Homo sapiens: one gene and its partners. The protein of the gene in region 1 purifies or fractionates together with the protein of each later gene. This does not show direct contact. Each region holds a gene or a part of one and is shown in the gene's direction. Other genes may lie near its edges.

What was found. The genes of interacting proteins can lie anywhere in the genome.
Region 2: the proteins of DKK2 (region 1) and LRP1B purify together in Homo sapiens (affinity purification with mass spectrometry; one large-scale study listed by BioGRID and IntAct). This does not show direct contact.
Region 3: the proteins of DKK2 (region 1) and SAP130 purify together in Homo sapiens (affinity purification with mass spectrometry; one large-scale study listed by BioGRID and IntAct). This does not show direct contact.
Region 4: the proteins of DKK2 (region 1) and LRP2 purify together in Homo sapiens (affinity purification with mass spectrometry; one large-scale study listed by BioGRID and IntAct). This does not show direct contact.

Annotation. Positions count from the first base shown.
Region 1 is NC_000004.12:106,924,814-106,928,452, reverse strand, and holds part of DKK2 (dickkopf-related protein 2 precursor), read left to right. Parts: intron 1-2,503; coding exon 2,504-2,654; intron 2,655-3,639. UniProt on the Homo sapiens protein: Antagonizes canonical Wnt signaling by inhibiting LRP5/6 interaction with Wnt and by forming a ternary complex with the transmembrane protein KREMEN that promotes internalization of LRP5/6.
Region 2 is NC_000002.12:140,349,878-140,353,516, reverse strand, and holds part of LRP1B (low-density lipoprotein receptor-related protein 1B precursor), read left to right. Parts: intron 1-444; coding exon 445-564; intron 565-2,478; coding exon 2,479-2,720; intron 2,721-3,639. UniProt on the Homo sapiens protein: Potential cell surface proteins that bind and internalize ligands in the process of receptor-mediated endocytosis.
Region 3 is NC_000002.12:127,940,921-127,944,559, reverse strand, and holds the end of SAP130 (histone deacetylase complex subunit SAP130), read left to right. Parts: intron 1-2,022; coding exon 2,023-2,136; intron 2,137-2,395; coding exon 2,396-2,554; 3' UTR 2,555-3,338; downstream 3,339-3,639. UniProt on the Homo sapiens protein: Acts as a transcriptional repressor. May function in the assembly and/or enzymatic activity of the mSin3A corepressor complex or in mediating interactions between the complex and other regulatory complexes.
Region 4 is NC_000002.12:169,205,396-169,209,034, reverse strand, and holds part of LRP2 (low-density lipoprotein receptor-related protein 2 precursor), read left to right. Parts: intron 1-1,784; coding exon 1,785-2,705; intron 2,706-2,846; coding exon 2,847-3,012; intron 3,013-3,397; coding exon 3,398-3,556; intron 3,557-3,639. UniProt on the Homo sapiens protein: Multiligand endocytic receptor. Acts together with CUBN to mediate endocytosis of high-density lipoproteins. Mediates receptor-mediated uptake of polybasic drugs such as aprotinin, aminoglycosides and polymyxin B.

The DNA of each region.
Region 1 (3,639 bases):
AAAGAATGTCTCCTAGTATTTATGTTCTGAAATTCCATTCCAAGTACAAGTTCCCAATATACATAACCTTGTATAGTTAGGCATTTTTTGGCATACTTTCTCTGCCTGTGTCATTTTTACTTCAAGTTAATTAAAAGAGATATTGGAGCATAATAAAACTATGTATTTTCTAATATACTTTCTATTTTTGATCAAATGAGGTTCCCTCTTTCAAAATTAAATTATTATAATTTTATTGTAATCCCATTCAAATATAAGGCTACTGTGCACCCCATTTTTTTAATGTCATCTGCATCAGATATTTGTCATTTTAATATTTTCCAGTTCCTGTCAACTGAGAATGGAAAGATGGTGATGCGCCATTCACAATTTTTTGGCAGACACTGCTACTTTTACCAAACAACCAGAAAATAAACAGCTATCAATAACAGCTAATAAATAAAATAGTGTATCCTGTGGACTATTTTGGGGGGATGGAATCCAGGATTATCCTATACTCAGAATGGCTTGAGGACTTGTTATTTGAGTTGTAAATAGCACATGATGTTTTATGTGGCACATGTTTATTTCCATTGAAAGAGCATGTCCTATTTTTGAGGAAGGAAAGAAACTTGTAACTTCAAATGTTTGTTGCAAAACAATTTGATGAAATAAATGTAAATGAATCAGAAACATGTGAATTGTATTTCATTAAAATTAATGGGTTTAAATGTGAAGGGGGTAAAATGCTTGGGGGAAAGAGTGTGGTAAGGCGGGAAGGGATATTTGTTTTGTTTTCATCAGTCTTGGATTCTTGAAAAATGGCTTAATAGTCTGAATTTCATCTCACTAAGATTCTCTTAAGCCTAATGGTGGAGTTACAGAGTGGAACAATGAAATGCAAATTTATTTTATAGCTTTGTGTGGCTCCAGTTATAAAGTATGCATCAAACATTGCCACTATGCAGTCCTTCAAAATAACTTTCAATTTGAAGTTGGTGGTTTTTCTATATAATTCTTTAAAGGGTAAACAAGAAATTGTAATGATGCTAAAATACATTTTTTATCTCTCAGACTCGTACATAAACTTCACATTTCCTTTTTCTAACTGAAGATGATCTGATCACCTAAACGGAAAACATGTGAGGGCTCAATGTGTAGACATATATGCAGGAGATGGGCAGGAGGAGAAGACACTGGAAGAAAGGGAAAGAGTAAAAGAAATAAAAGGAAAAAAAGACATGAGCAATGCAGGCCGAGCTATACCATCAAACCTAATTCATAAGTAAAGCACTGAAATCTCACTAAGTATTTGAGAGCCATAACCATTTTATCCCATAGTTTATGTTCAAATTATTTATGGTTGCTTAAAAACAAATACATAGCTTATTTTATATTTTGTATTTTCAATTAAAAAATCATCTATTACTCTGAAAATGAGAAAAATATCAACTTCAAAAAAGAAAAAAAGGTTTACAAATGAGTCTCCCTGCCTCAAAATCTGAGTAAGTTTGATGTGGGTTATGACATTTTAGTTTCTCAACTTCCAGTCTTTGAACACAGGGACATTTTTAATGTTCCAAATACTTCCAAGAGGCAAGGGGTGCACAAATGGGTATATATGTATGTATAACCCCTGAAATCTTCATTTTCCTAAACTCTGACCACCTTCTGTATTATTTCACATGTATTTTTTTTTAAGATAATATATGACACTGCTGAAGTAGCCTTCTGGACATACCCCTAGGTAGAGAAATGTATGAACAGAGGTTCTTTCTTTACAATAGAAGGCGTAGTAGCCTGTGGGGCTATTTCAGGTCTGTAAGGAGTCTGCTTTTGTGCTTCCTGGGAATATAATGATATAATTGGAGCTTAGCATCTCTCTGGCTGCTGGGAGCTCAACTGCTGCTTATCACCGTGTTTGGAATGAGGATCCTGTTCCTTAGTGTCTTTGTGCCAAATAATTCACTGCCTCATACTGTTCTGGAAATGTTTCTCCTCCTTGCTTTTATAGGCAGGAACTGAAAGGGTTCACTTTTAAAATATTTGTTTCATAATTGGGCAGGAGATACATTTTGGCTTCTAGCATAGCCCTTTGTTGTTTTATTTAACATTTCTCTCATCGTTCTTTAACAGGTGAAAAAATCGAGTGGCTAAGATGGCTGTGTCATTTTTACCTTACAATAGCATCAATGCAATAATTACAACTGCTCTTGAGACCCCAAAGTCACACATAAGGGTCCTATGAATCAATAAAAGTCTAAATTCTAACTCTAGCGTTGTGTCAATGAAAATATACAAACAGCGTCAGCTTTATCTTTGTCATCAAGCAATAGATATTTATAAGGTCCTCAATTAAGTGTGACTACTTAGGCTCTAGGTTCAGAACATTATGATGATGGTATAGTTCCTTCCGGGTGAGATATATTGTGATTCATTTTCTATCATGATTTGCTATAGTAATGTTTCATAAGTGAAACACGATCTAATCCTTTACTTCTGGTGTTGTTCCACTTGATGACAGGCCTACCCTTGTAGCAGTGATAAGGAGTGTGAAGTTGGGAGGTATTGCCACAGTCCCCACCAAGGATCATCGGCCTGCATGGTGTGTCGGAGAAAAAAGAAGCGCTGCCACCGAGATGGCATGTGCTGCCCCAGTACCCGCTGCAATAATGGTAAAAGATCTCACTAAGTGTTAATGGGCCTCTTTCTTTTCATCATCATAAGCCTGTCTCTCAAGTCAGGCTATCGTCTCCTTACTCAGACTCCTGAAATATAAGAAGCCTGGTAGAACTGGTTTAGGTAGTGTAAGATTACCTGGATTACCTCCCCAAATCTTAGTTTTCCTAGAGTCTGGCTACTTTCTATATTTTATGACCTACACTGATCTAGAATATTGCCATGTTGAAGTGTTGTGTATAAATAGCAAGATGTTCTATTTCAGTAAACACATAAGTGAATGCATGTAAAAGAACCAAAGAAAGAAACTTGATATGATTTAGTAATGCAGTTGCAAATATCTATTCCAGTTTTGTGCTTTGGGTTTAGTCAAGATGTTCTGTGGCTCAGTCTTATGGTAGTAGAGTGATTGGTTCCTCCAAAGGGAGATGCAGCATTTTATTCCCCAACCTGGCTTCATCCAATATCAATGAATTTATAGGCAGACAATTCAGTAATAATGATGAAATGGATCACAGACAAGATGTGGCAAAAACATTAAATAATTGCAGAAGGTAATTAGAAATATATACTTAATCATATAAAACAACATAATCAGGCTCATTTTCTCATGCCTATTCCTGACCTCTGGGTGTAGACCTACTGTGAGTCTCTTGCACAGGAGGTGAAGGGAAGAAGACCTCACACCATTAGAGAAGTTTACAGTGTAAACTAACATTATGTTGTTAATTAATAAAGGAATCTGGATCCAGAGGATGTATGTCTGATCAGATTCTTTAAAAATAGTAATAGCTAACATTGATTCTTCACATATATTCACAATAACTTTGTGACTATATAAAATTATGCTTTTATTCCCAGTTTTGTCCAAGGTCACTTGGTCTTGAGAGAGACAAAATTCATATTAAAGAAGTTTCACTTTAGGGCCAAAGTATGCTCAGTCTCAATAAATAAGTAAATGAATGGATGGGTGGATAGATA
Region 2 (3,639 bases), on another chromosome or scaffold:
AGGTAGGTCATCAGAAACAGCTTAAAAGAAAACCTCAAGACAGGTCTATTTGCGTGAATGGAAATCTATACAACAAACCCCCATGGCACAAGTTTATCTAGGTAGCAAACCTGCACTTGTATCCATGAACTTAAAAGGTAAAAAAATAAATAAGTAAAAATTTTAAGAAAGAAAAAAGAAAGCCCCAGGGAAGTTTGAAATTGAAGCTTTAATATTTTAAGTGGATTAATAAAAGCAATGACAATTGATAAATCTTCTACTACAAATATTGTGAAAAATGATTATACCTTCAAAAATATGACACAGCAGGTCACAGATTAAAGATGTGAAAGGACAATAAAGCTAGTAATAAGTTAAAAATAATTTTGGCTTTTTTGAAACGTGGTAAGAATAGGAGTCTGAATTGAGGGTATGATGATGCTATTTTGAGCTCTTCTTTTCTAGACCTTAATGAATGTTTGGTGTTTGGCACATGTTCCCATCAATGTATAAATGTGGAAGGATCATATAAATGTGTGTGTGACCAGAATTTTCAAGAAAGAAATAACACCTGCATAGCAGAAGGTAAGATTATAACCACTATTGCAAATCCTATTACAATTTTGTTGTAAACATTTTATGGAGAAAAATGTTTTATATTTCATTCCAGCAACAGCTTCATTTCTGATAAAATACTTTTAATGATGATTAATTTGGCCAGTTGGTTAGTTAATATTAATGAATTTAATCTTAGATGGTTTATGGAAATGACTATGAAATATATGGTTACTGTTAAAATCACATTGTGTCATTGTGTTCAAAACAATTTTTCAAAAGGGGTAAAATTTTAAAAGCCAGTGTGATAGAATGTGAAGTATCTCTCTTGATGGTCTGCTCTAAGGGAATATGAGAAAAATTATACCCCAGGGATAAAAATAAACATTAGCATTATAAGGAGAAAGGAATTTTGAGTAAGGATTTTAAAGGTTTTAAAACAAGATCTTGCTTTCAAATTTAGAAGTCCTCCACTTACCAATATTATTTTTTAAAAAGATTAAATGATAGGCCTGGTGCAGTGGCTCATGCCTGTAATCCCAGCACCTTGGGAGGCCAAGGCGAGTGGATCACGAGATCAGGAGTTCAAGAACAACCTGACCAACATGGTGAAACCCCGTCTCTACTAAAACTACAAAAATTAGCCAGGCGTGGTGGTACACACCTGTAGTCCCAGCTACTTGGGAGGCTGATGCAGGAGAATCGCTTCAACCCAGGAGGCAGAGGTTGCAGTGAGCCAGGATTGCGCCACTGAACTCCAGCCTGGGTGACAGAGCAAGACTCCATCTCAAAAAAAGAAAAACAAACAAACAAAAAAAGATTAAATGATAAACTAGGGTTCTGGGCAATTGTAGGTATAGATTTTAATATTCATGTGTTTATGCTAAATAATACTGTAACTTCAATATTGTTGGCTACAAAGTATGATTGGACATTATTAAGATTGTTATTACAAGAAGAAAACAGGATGATGTAATGGATCAACTGTGGGCTATAGCATTTGATATGCTTGGATTTGAATCCCAGCACAGCACCTTTTAGACTGTGTGGCCTCAAGGAATTCACTAAAGTGTCAGAGCCTCAGTTCAGTTTCCATAGTTATAAGAAGTGGAGATAAACTGTGAAAGGCTTAACATAGCGTCTGACACATAATAAGCATTTGCTAAGTGACAGCTATTAACATTACAGAGCTGAAAGGCACCTCATGAGGTATTATTATTATTATTTATTTGCAGAAACTATGTATGCAATCGAACATCTCTTTAGGGCTTCGTTAATATTTTAATTGATAATTTTGGCATTTGCTTTAGGGTTTTACTTGTTAGTATGAAAATGACATTAGTACTCTATTGTAGGTGTCAAAACTTTAGAATAGAATGTTACACTTAGCAGGATTCTAGATAATTTAGAGATTATAGAACTTTAATGGAATAAATACTGATATCTTTTTATGTTAAAAGTTAGTAAGCATTTAAGATGTATAAATACAGTAAGAGGAAGATTCTTCATATTTTAATTTTTATTTCTTAGCCTAAAGTAATGATCACTCAGGTGCATAAATTAAGTAATCAGAAACTTTTGAAGCTTAATGAGTATACAACATAGTACTTGGATATTGACAATTGATGCATTATAACCTAGTGTATTGTGACTTATCAAATAATAATCTCTCTTCATAAAAGGACATTTATATGTACATAATTTCTAGCCATAAGGAAAGATTGGCAGTAGAAAAACCTCTATCAATAATTATTGTAAATGTTTAGATAAGTGAGTATCAGAAATAATAAGCCATAAAGACTAAAAGACAATATAAAACTGGTTGATTTTTGAGGAAAAACTGTATTAAGAATAATAATTCAAGATAATTTAAAAGTACAATTATTGCTTTTAACATTAGTTGAAATTTACTTTATTTTTGTATTTTATTATAATAATCTCCAGGCTCTGAAGATCAAGTTCTCTACATTGCTAATGACACTGATATCCTGGGTTTTATATATCCATTCAACTACAGTGGCGATCATCAACAAATTTCTCATATTGAACATAATTCAAGAATAACAGGGATGGATGTATATTATCAAAGAGATATGATTATTTGGAGTACTCAGTTTAATCCAGGCGGAATTTTCTACAAAAGGATCCATGGCAGAGAAAAAAGGCAAGCAAACAGTGGCTTGATTGTAAGTAAATACCATTGTATATTTGAAAGTCCATACCTTTTCCCCACCTGCTTTTTAAACAAAATTTATCTAATATAATATCTAATTATACTAAGTAATATATTCAATTATTCTCCCAATATTCTCCTTAAATAGAAATAATGCATTTCTCTACTCATTCTCATAGCTGTACATGATTTATTTTAGTTGCATGCTTTTATGTTTTTGCTTTAATGTATTTGACTATTATATAAGAATGCTAATGAATGACATATAACATCTCCAGAACATCTATTTCATAGTGCTTTACAATTATTATGAACATAAGCTTTTTTATCATGAGATGAGATTGGGAAACATCACTTTATTTTTACATTAGAAAGTAGCGTAATGCAGGGATAACTATTTCTCTTCTTACATTATCATAAATATACTTCTACTGTAGGGCAGGACATCAACTCAATAGTGTAACCATTTCTTCTGACTCCTGATAACTATATTTCAGGAAATATCCAAAACAGAAATATTGTGCACTTGTGTATGCTGGACATGTTGATTATCATGGTTATTGTTTTTGAGAAAAAATAAACTGGAACATGTTTCAATTTATGGTTGTAGATTAGATTATCCCTTTTTGTTTTAGGGCATGTCAAGTTATTGTGTGTTTTATATTTTTAAGTAACCTGGAAGGAAAATGACAGATAAATATGTGTTTTTATAGGGCCTGGCCCATTCCTGTACAACCAAAAAGTCAAGTGGTGTCCCAGCAGGATGTAATTGAAGCTTTGTGTTTAACAAAAATTAGAGGTTCCTATCTAGAAGTTCTCACTACTTTTTCTACTAGCATCTACCATAAACACTTGAACTACATAAATCCATTTGATGCAAATCTGGAATATACTTTATCAGCAGTAGATGGCAATATGCTGGTTTTAAAAGA
Region 3 (3,639 bases), on another chromosome or scaffold:
TACTCGGGAGGCTGAGGTAGGAGAATTGCTTGAAACCAGAAGGTGGAGGTTGCAGTGAGCAGAGATCATGCCACTGCACTCAAGCCTGGGCGAAAGAGCAAAACTCCCTCTCGGGGAAAAAAAAAATTGTAGAGACAGGGTCTCACTATGTTGCCCAGGCTGTACTGTGTCTTAATTTTTAACAAGTATAAAAAGTTAAAATTTTTTTTTAATAGAACATAAGGGGCCAGGTTCAGTGGCTCAGGCCTGTGATCCCAGTACTTTGGAAGGCTGGGGCAAGAGGATTGCTTGGGCCCAGGAGTTTGAGGCCCACCTGGACAACATAGTGGGACCCTGTCTCTACAAAAAAAAGTGTTTTAATTAGCCGGGTGTAGTGGTGCACACCCCCTAGTCCCAGCTACCTGGGAAGCTGAGGTGGGAGGAACTCTTGAGCCCGGAAGACCAAGGCTGCCCTTAGCCATGATCGCACCACTGCACTCCATCCTGGATAACAGAGTAAGACACTCTCAAAAAAAAGGAAGAAAACAAAGTTTATAGAATAAAGATACAAAGAAAGAAAATATTTTTTGTAACCGCCCAACAGTATCCACATTTGTCCAACAATATGTGTTTTAAGCTAAGTTTTATTGCAAAGGAGTCAAAAAGTTTAAAACAATTTAAAAGTTTATAAAGTAAAAAGAGTATGCTACGGTTAATTTGTTATTGAAGAAAGAAGAATATTTTTAATAGATTTAGTGTAGCCTAAGGGCACAGTGCTTATAAAGCCTACAGTAGTGTACAGTGATGTCTTAGACCTTCACATTCACTCCCTGCTCACCCACTGACTCACACAGAGCAACTTAACAGTCCTGGTAGACTGCATTCATGTAAGTGCTCTTTACCATTTTTAATCTGTCATGCCGTATTTTTGCTGTACCTTTTCTATGTATAGATACGTTTAGATACACAAATACTTAACACTGTGTTTCAGTTTCCCGCACTATTCCTTGCAGTAACATGGTGTACATGTTTGTAGCCTAGGAGCAGTAGGCTCTATCATATAGTCTAAATATGTGGTAGTTCATAACATCTAGGTTTGTGTAAGTACATTCTGTGATGGTCACACAACAATAAAATTTCCTAAAGACATTTCTCAGAACGTATCCCTGTCATTAAGCAGAGCATGACTGTATTTGTGACTCATAAACTGCTGTTAATCTTATCCATCCAGTGTTGGATCTTATATGTTTGGCCATTTCTATAACCCTAGGGCAAGAATCCCTCCTTCACCAGCAGGTGAAGAGGAGGCAACAACCTCATAAAGTTTTTCCTCTTCAGTAGCAGTGACCTGAAGAACATTGTCTGTTGTCAGTATCTAAAAAAATGTAGTGCCTTGGCTACTTCTGACTTAGCAGAAATCACTTCTATGAAACTTGGAGACTTGTGTTTCAGAAGAATTGTGGATTCAAGGCAGTATTCAAAAGTTATCCTTGAAGATAGGCTCTGAACTATGGCAAATTATAATGTAAATCTTTGTTGATCAGTTTCCTTTACTGTTTTTATTTTATTTATTTATTTATTTATTTATTTTTTAGATGGAATTTCGCTCTTGTTGCCCAGGCTGGAGTGCAATGGCGGGATCTCAGCTCACTGCAACCTCTGCCTCCCGGGTTCAAGCGATTCTCCTGCCTCAGCCTCCCGAGTAACTGGGATTGCAGGCATGCGCCACCACGCCCAGCTAATTTTGTATTTTTAATAGAGATGGCGTTTCACCTTGTTGGTCAGGCTGGTCTCAAACTCTGGACCTCAGGTGATCCACCCGCCTCGACCTCCCAAAGTGCTGGGATTATAGGCGTGAGCCACCGCGCCCAGCCCCTTTACTGTTTTTAAACCTTAGTATCTTAGTCCTTAGGAGAAAGGACGTTGTCACCCAAACAACTCTTAGACAGTTTACAAAGGTGATTGAAGGTGGGTTCATTTGCCTGGGGTTGACATAGAAAAATATTTCCGAGCTTATGATACCCTCCCTTTTGTGTGTTGCAGACGAATCTAGAACATGATGTCTATGAAAGACTTACTAACCTGCAGGAAGGGATTATCCCAAAGAAAAAAGCAGCAACAGATGATGATCTCCACCGAATAAACGAACTGATACAGGTTTGAGTGCGCCCCTTCCCTTCTGATCATCTACTTTATGAAGTTGCTTTCTGTAAAGCCCTACTTCTCCCGTTTCCCCCCGTCTCCCTCATATCTTCAGTAAAAACATACGTGCTTCAGCCTGCACTCCTGAGAAACAAAAAGACATTTTCTCTGTTGTGGAAGCCTCAACATGGCCTCTGCCCAAAGGCAAGCAGTTTTTTAAAAGCTGTACTATCCTCATGGTCACTGATTGATGATGCAATGTCTTCTGTTTCAGGGAAATATGCAGAGGTGTAAACTTGTGATGGATCAAATCAGTGAAGCCAGAGACTCCATGCTTAAGGTTTTAGATCATAAAGACCGTGTCCTGAAGCTGCTTAACAAGAACGGGACTGTCAAAAAAGTGTCCAAATTGAAGCGAAAGGAAAAAGTCTAGACCCAGAACAATCAGGAGATTGGAAGCAAATTTATGAAGAATGATGGTGGGGGTGGGGGGAGGGTTTTGGTTTTTTCCAAAGTGGAACATTGAAATAAAGGAAGTGTTCCTTAGTTCCCGTGTGAAAGCAGAGGAACCCATGACATCCAAGGGCGTGAAAGGATCAGAGCTGACTGGACATAGTGAGCTGCCTTCTTGCGTTCGGGTGCACCCCTGTTAAACCTGATCTGTGTCATAAGTGACTCCGGATGCATCAGTGTCCACCAGTTGGAAGCAATGACAAGGATGGCTGGCTGGTGTTTTTCAGCCTTCCGGTTTATAGACTGTATTTATCTAGTGGATTCCTGCAGGCCCCATACTGAGCCTGGACTGAAAGTATCCACTCGGACCATCTGTTATCTCTCTACACTGAAAATAAAACCTCTTCCACCCACCCCATTCGGTTCTTCTGCCTGACCTTCAAATGCCCATGTTGGCCTTTTACAGCAGTGCCACGGCACCAAGCGAGCTGCCACATCTCACACTCTAAAGGGTTTGAACTATTAGTTCTTGTCATTTTTTAAAAAAAACCATTCCCAAGTGAAATTGTTATATCGTCTGTCTTGCGTGTGTCAGAACTGGGTTTTTGTGGAGGTTCAGAGCAGGCAACACCATAAGTTGCTCTCAGATCCTTGTTCTGAAGTACATTCTTGGTTATCTGTACTTCTGTAGCTGGTGTGATGCTGTTAATTGTATGTACCACACATCTCCAGACGTTAATAAAGGACTCAAAGAGGTTTTTGTACTTGCGCAGTTTGCATCTTTTTGTAAAGTGAATCAGTGCCATACTGACCCTCACTGAAATGTTTACCCTGCTTCAGTTTTTCACACATTGTTGGGAGCCTACTTTGTTTGTTGAAGTTATGCTGTTCGCATAGAGTTCCTCTTAGAGGGTAGTCTAAATATGCTACAGTGGTGAAACCTGTTGGATCTTGGCTCCCTTAAATACGAGCCTGTATTGTGGCCCAGTGCGGATAAAAATTGGTCCGATTACAGGACTATTAAGGCTGCAGTACTGGGGGCGGAGCTTTCGGGCGGGTGGATCC
Region 4 (3,639 bases), on another chromosome or scaffold:
TAATTGCTTCCTTTTATTCATATATAAAAATCCCTTAGATCATGAGATATTTTATTAGTAATTTTTTTAAATGCCTGGTCCAGTATTATATTAACTTAGTTGTATTTATTCATGCACATAAGCTTGAATAACCCCTCATTTTTATCACTCATCTGAGTAAAAATACCACTCATAATTAGTGGTATTATATGTTTTGGAATATAATCCAATTCTACATAAAATCAGTATCATTGAATCAAGCTTGGTGAGTAGGCATCACTTAGAAATATTAGCATGTAGGCAGGGCGCAGTGGCTCATGCCTGTAATCCCAGCACTTTAGGAGGCTGAGGCAGGCGGATCACCTGAGGTCAAGAGTTTGAGACCAGCCTGACCAACATGGTGAAACCCCATCTCTACTAAAAACACAAAAATTAACCAGGCATGGTGGCGTACGCCTGTAATCCCAGCTACTCAGGAGCCTGAGGCAGGAGAATCTCTTGAAGCCGGGAGGTGGAGGTTGCAGTGGGCCGAGATTAAGCCACTGCCATCAAGCCTGGGTGACAGACTGAGACTCTGTCTCGAATTAAAAAAAAATTTAAAAAAAGGAAATATAAGCATGTATTATGAAAATCTAAGTACTATAATAAGAGTTTATTGCAAAAAGTAAATATGGAAGTATGGTTAAATAAAGCTTTAATTGGGTTCCTAACTCCCGTTCCTGAATAGAAATTACTATTTCTGAGGGTATAGATAAAGCAGTAGTCAGCAAACTATGGCCCGTGCGTCAAATGCAGCCTGTTGCCTGTTTTTGTAAATAAAGTTTTATTGTAACACAGCTATGCCCATTTATTTGTGTATTGTCTATGGCTGCTTTCATGTTACAGTGGCAGTGTTGAGTACTTGTGAAACCATATGCTCTGCAAAGCCTAAAATATTTATTATGTGGCCCTTTACAGAAAAAGTTTGCCAACCCTGGATTAAAGGATTGGAAATGAGCAAATGCATACATAGCAAGTAGAGTTAGGTAATGAAAAAATGTATCAGTAACATATTTCACATTGGCCTGATTTCTCTAGAGGTGGTTTGAATCAGATATAGGAACAAAATATGTGTGTCTTGGTAGTAGCATTGATAGTTCAACAACAGACTTTCAACTACATGAAATCAATAATTTGTGGTCATTCTCTACTTATTATACTATCTTCATAAAGTTATCTTTTTATTCTAGCATGTACATAAGGCCCAAAGGGAAATGGACTTTTGGTCACTTTTAGAAGGTCCATGGGATGAAAACACCTACATTAGTTAGAAAGACTAAGGAAAAACTTCATGTTAACCTTAAGTTCAAAGACCATTTGATAACATTAATAACAACCTGAGATGCTGCTGGTGCTCCCTCTTTGCTACTTTTATCACATTGGGATGGAAGTTGTGCTATGAAAATGTATATTTAGAGTGTTTCAAGTAGGTATTAAGCATTTAGAGCTTCAGATAGAAAAGGAGGGACATTCTGGAAAATATACCTTTCAGTAGAAAGTGGGTTATGATGTTGCTATGAATTCTAATCTACTTTAGAAGCTGAAGATAGGCACTTTCTCTCTAAATTTGAAGACACAATCTCTATAATTCCTAGGAGTAAGAACTTATTTTTCTAAGCCTAGACTGGGACACTATCATCTTGGAAAAGACAACATATAGTGACCCAGACTTCAACCTTATATATTTTGTTCTGAATTTGTAAAGTTCTCCCTTTTTTTCTTCTTGGTTCTCCATTGATCAGCATGCACTTTCATTTTTCCCATAGGAAATCTTTATTTCACCAATGCCTTTGTTTCTGAAACACTGATAGAAGTTCTGCGGATCAATACTACTTACCGCCGTGTTCTTCTTAAAGTCACAGTGGACATGCCTAGGCATATTGTTGTAGATCCCAAGAACAGATACCTCTTCTGGGCTGACTATGGGCAGAGACCAAAGATTGAGCGTTCTTTCCTTGACTGTACCAATCGAACAGTGCTTGTGTCAGAGGGCATTGTCACACCACGGGGCTTGGCAGTGGACCGAAGTGATGGCTACGTTTATTGGGTTGATGATTCTTTAGATATAATTGCAAGGATTCGTATCAATGGAGAGAACTCTGAAGTGATTCGTTATGGCAGTCGTTACCCAACTCCTTATGGCATCACTGTTTTTGAAAATTCTATCATATGGGTAGATAGGAATTTGAAAAAGATCTTCCAAGCCAGCAAGGAACCAGAGAACACAGAGCCACCCACAGTGATAAGAGACAATATCAACTGGCTAAGAGATGTGACCATCTTTGACAAGCAAGTCCAGCCCCGGTCACCAGCAGAGGTCAACAACAACCCTTGCTTGGAAAACAATGGTGGGTGCTCTCATCTCTGCTTTGCTCTGCCTGGATTGCACACCCCAAAATGTGACTGTGCCTTTGGGACCCTGCAAAGTGATGGCAAGAATTGTGCCATTTCAACAGAAAATTTCCTCATCTTTGCCTTGTCTAATTCCTTGAGAAGCTTACACTTGGACCCTGAAAACCATAGCCCACCTTTCCAAACAATAAATGTGGAAAGAACTGTCATGTCTCTAGACTATGACAGTGTAAGTGATAGAATCTACTTCACACAAAATTTAGCCTCTGGAGTTGGACAGATTTCCTATGCCACCCTGTCTTCAGGGATCCATACTCCAACTGTCATTGCTTCAGGTAAGTGCACTCCAGGTGCTGCTTGTCCTGCAAGTAGACACAATGGGGTCAACACACATGGATGACTGAGTGTTTCTAATGCATATGAGACTCTAATGTCTTTGTGTGTGCTTGTGTGTGTGTCTGCCTGTATGTGTCCAGGTATAGGGACTGCTGATGGCATTGCCTTTGACTGGATTACTAGAAGAATTTATTACAGTGACTACCTCAACCAGATGATTAATTCCATGGCTGAAGATGGGTCTAACCGCACTGTGATAGCCCGCGTTCCAAAACCAAGAGCAATTGTGTTAGATCCCTGCCAAGGGTATGCCATCATCTTCCTTGTTATATTTCTGTCTGCTTATTTCTGGAAAAAATGGGGCCTGAAATTATGTTCATAGATAGCCAATGTGTTATGGGCTTATAAAACTATGGCTACAGATTCAAAAATGAAAGCATATTGAGTGATTTTACGTGGGAAGGAGGGTGCAGCGCATAGCTCCCTTTGATGGCAGAAAGGTTGGCAACATACTAGGAAGTCAACACCCTGACTTACTAGATCTCCTTTGGACAAGTTGTGTAAGTAGAAATGAAGTTTCTTTTGCCATGTTACTGGCAATTTGCAATTAAAGAATATTGTCCTTTTTTTTTTTTTTAAAGGACTATGAGGTTCCCTGTGAATTAATTATTGACTCCTTTTGTATGACTAGGTACCTGTACTGGGCTGACTGGGATACACATGCCAAAATCGAGAGAGCCACATTGGGAGGAAACTTCCGCGTACCCATTGTGAACAGCAGTCTGGTCATGCCCAGTGGGCTGACTCTGGACTATGAAGAGGACCTTCTCTACTGGGTGGATGCTAGTCTGTAGGTGTCTCTGGTTACTCATGTGGGTGTTAAGAAGAGGTTTTTCTTCCATTTCCAAAGAAGAGGGATTTGCATCATGTGAT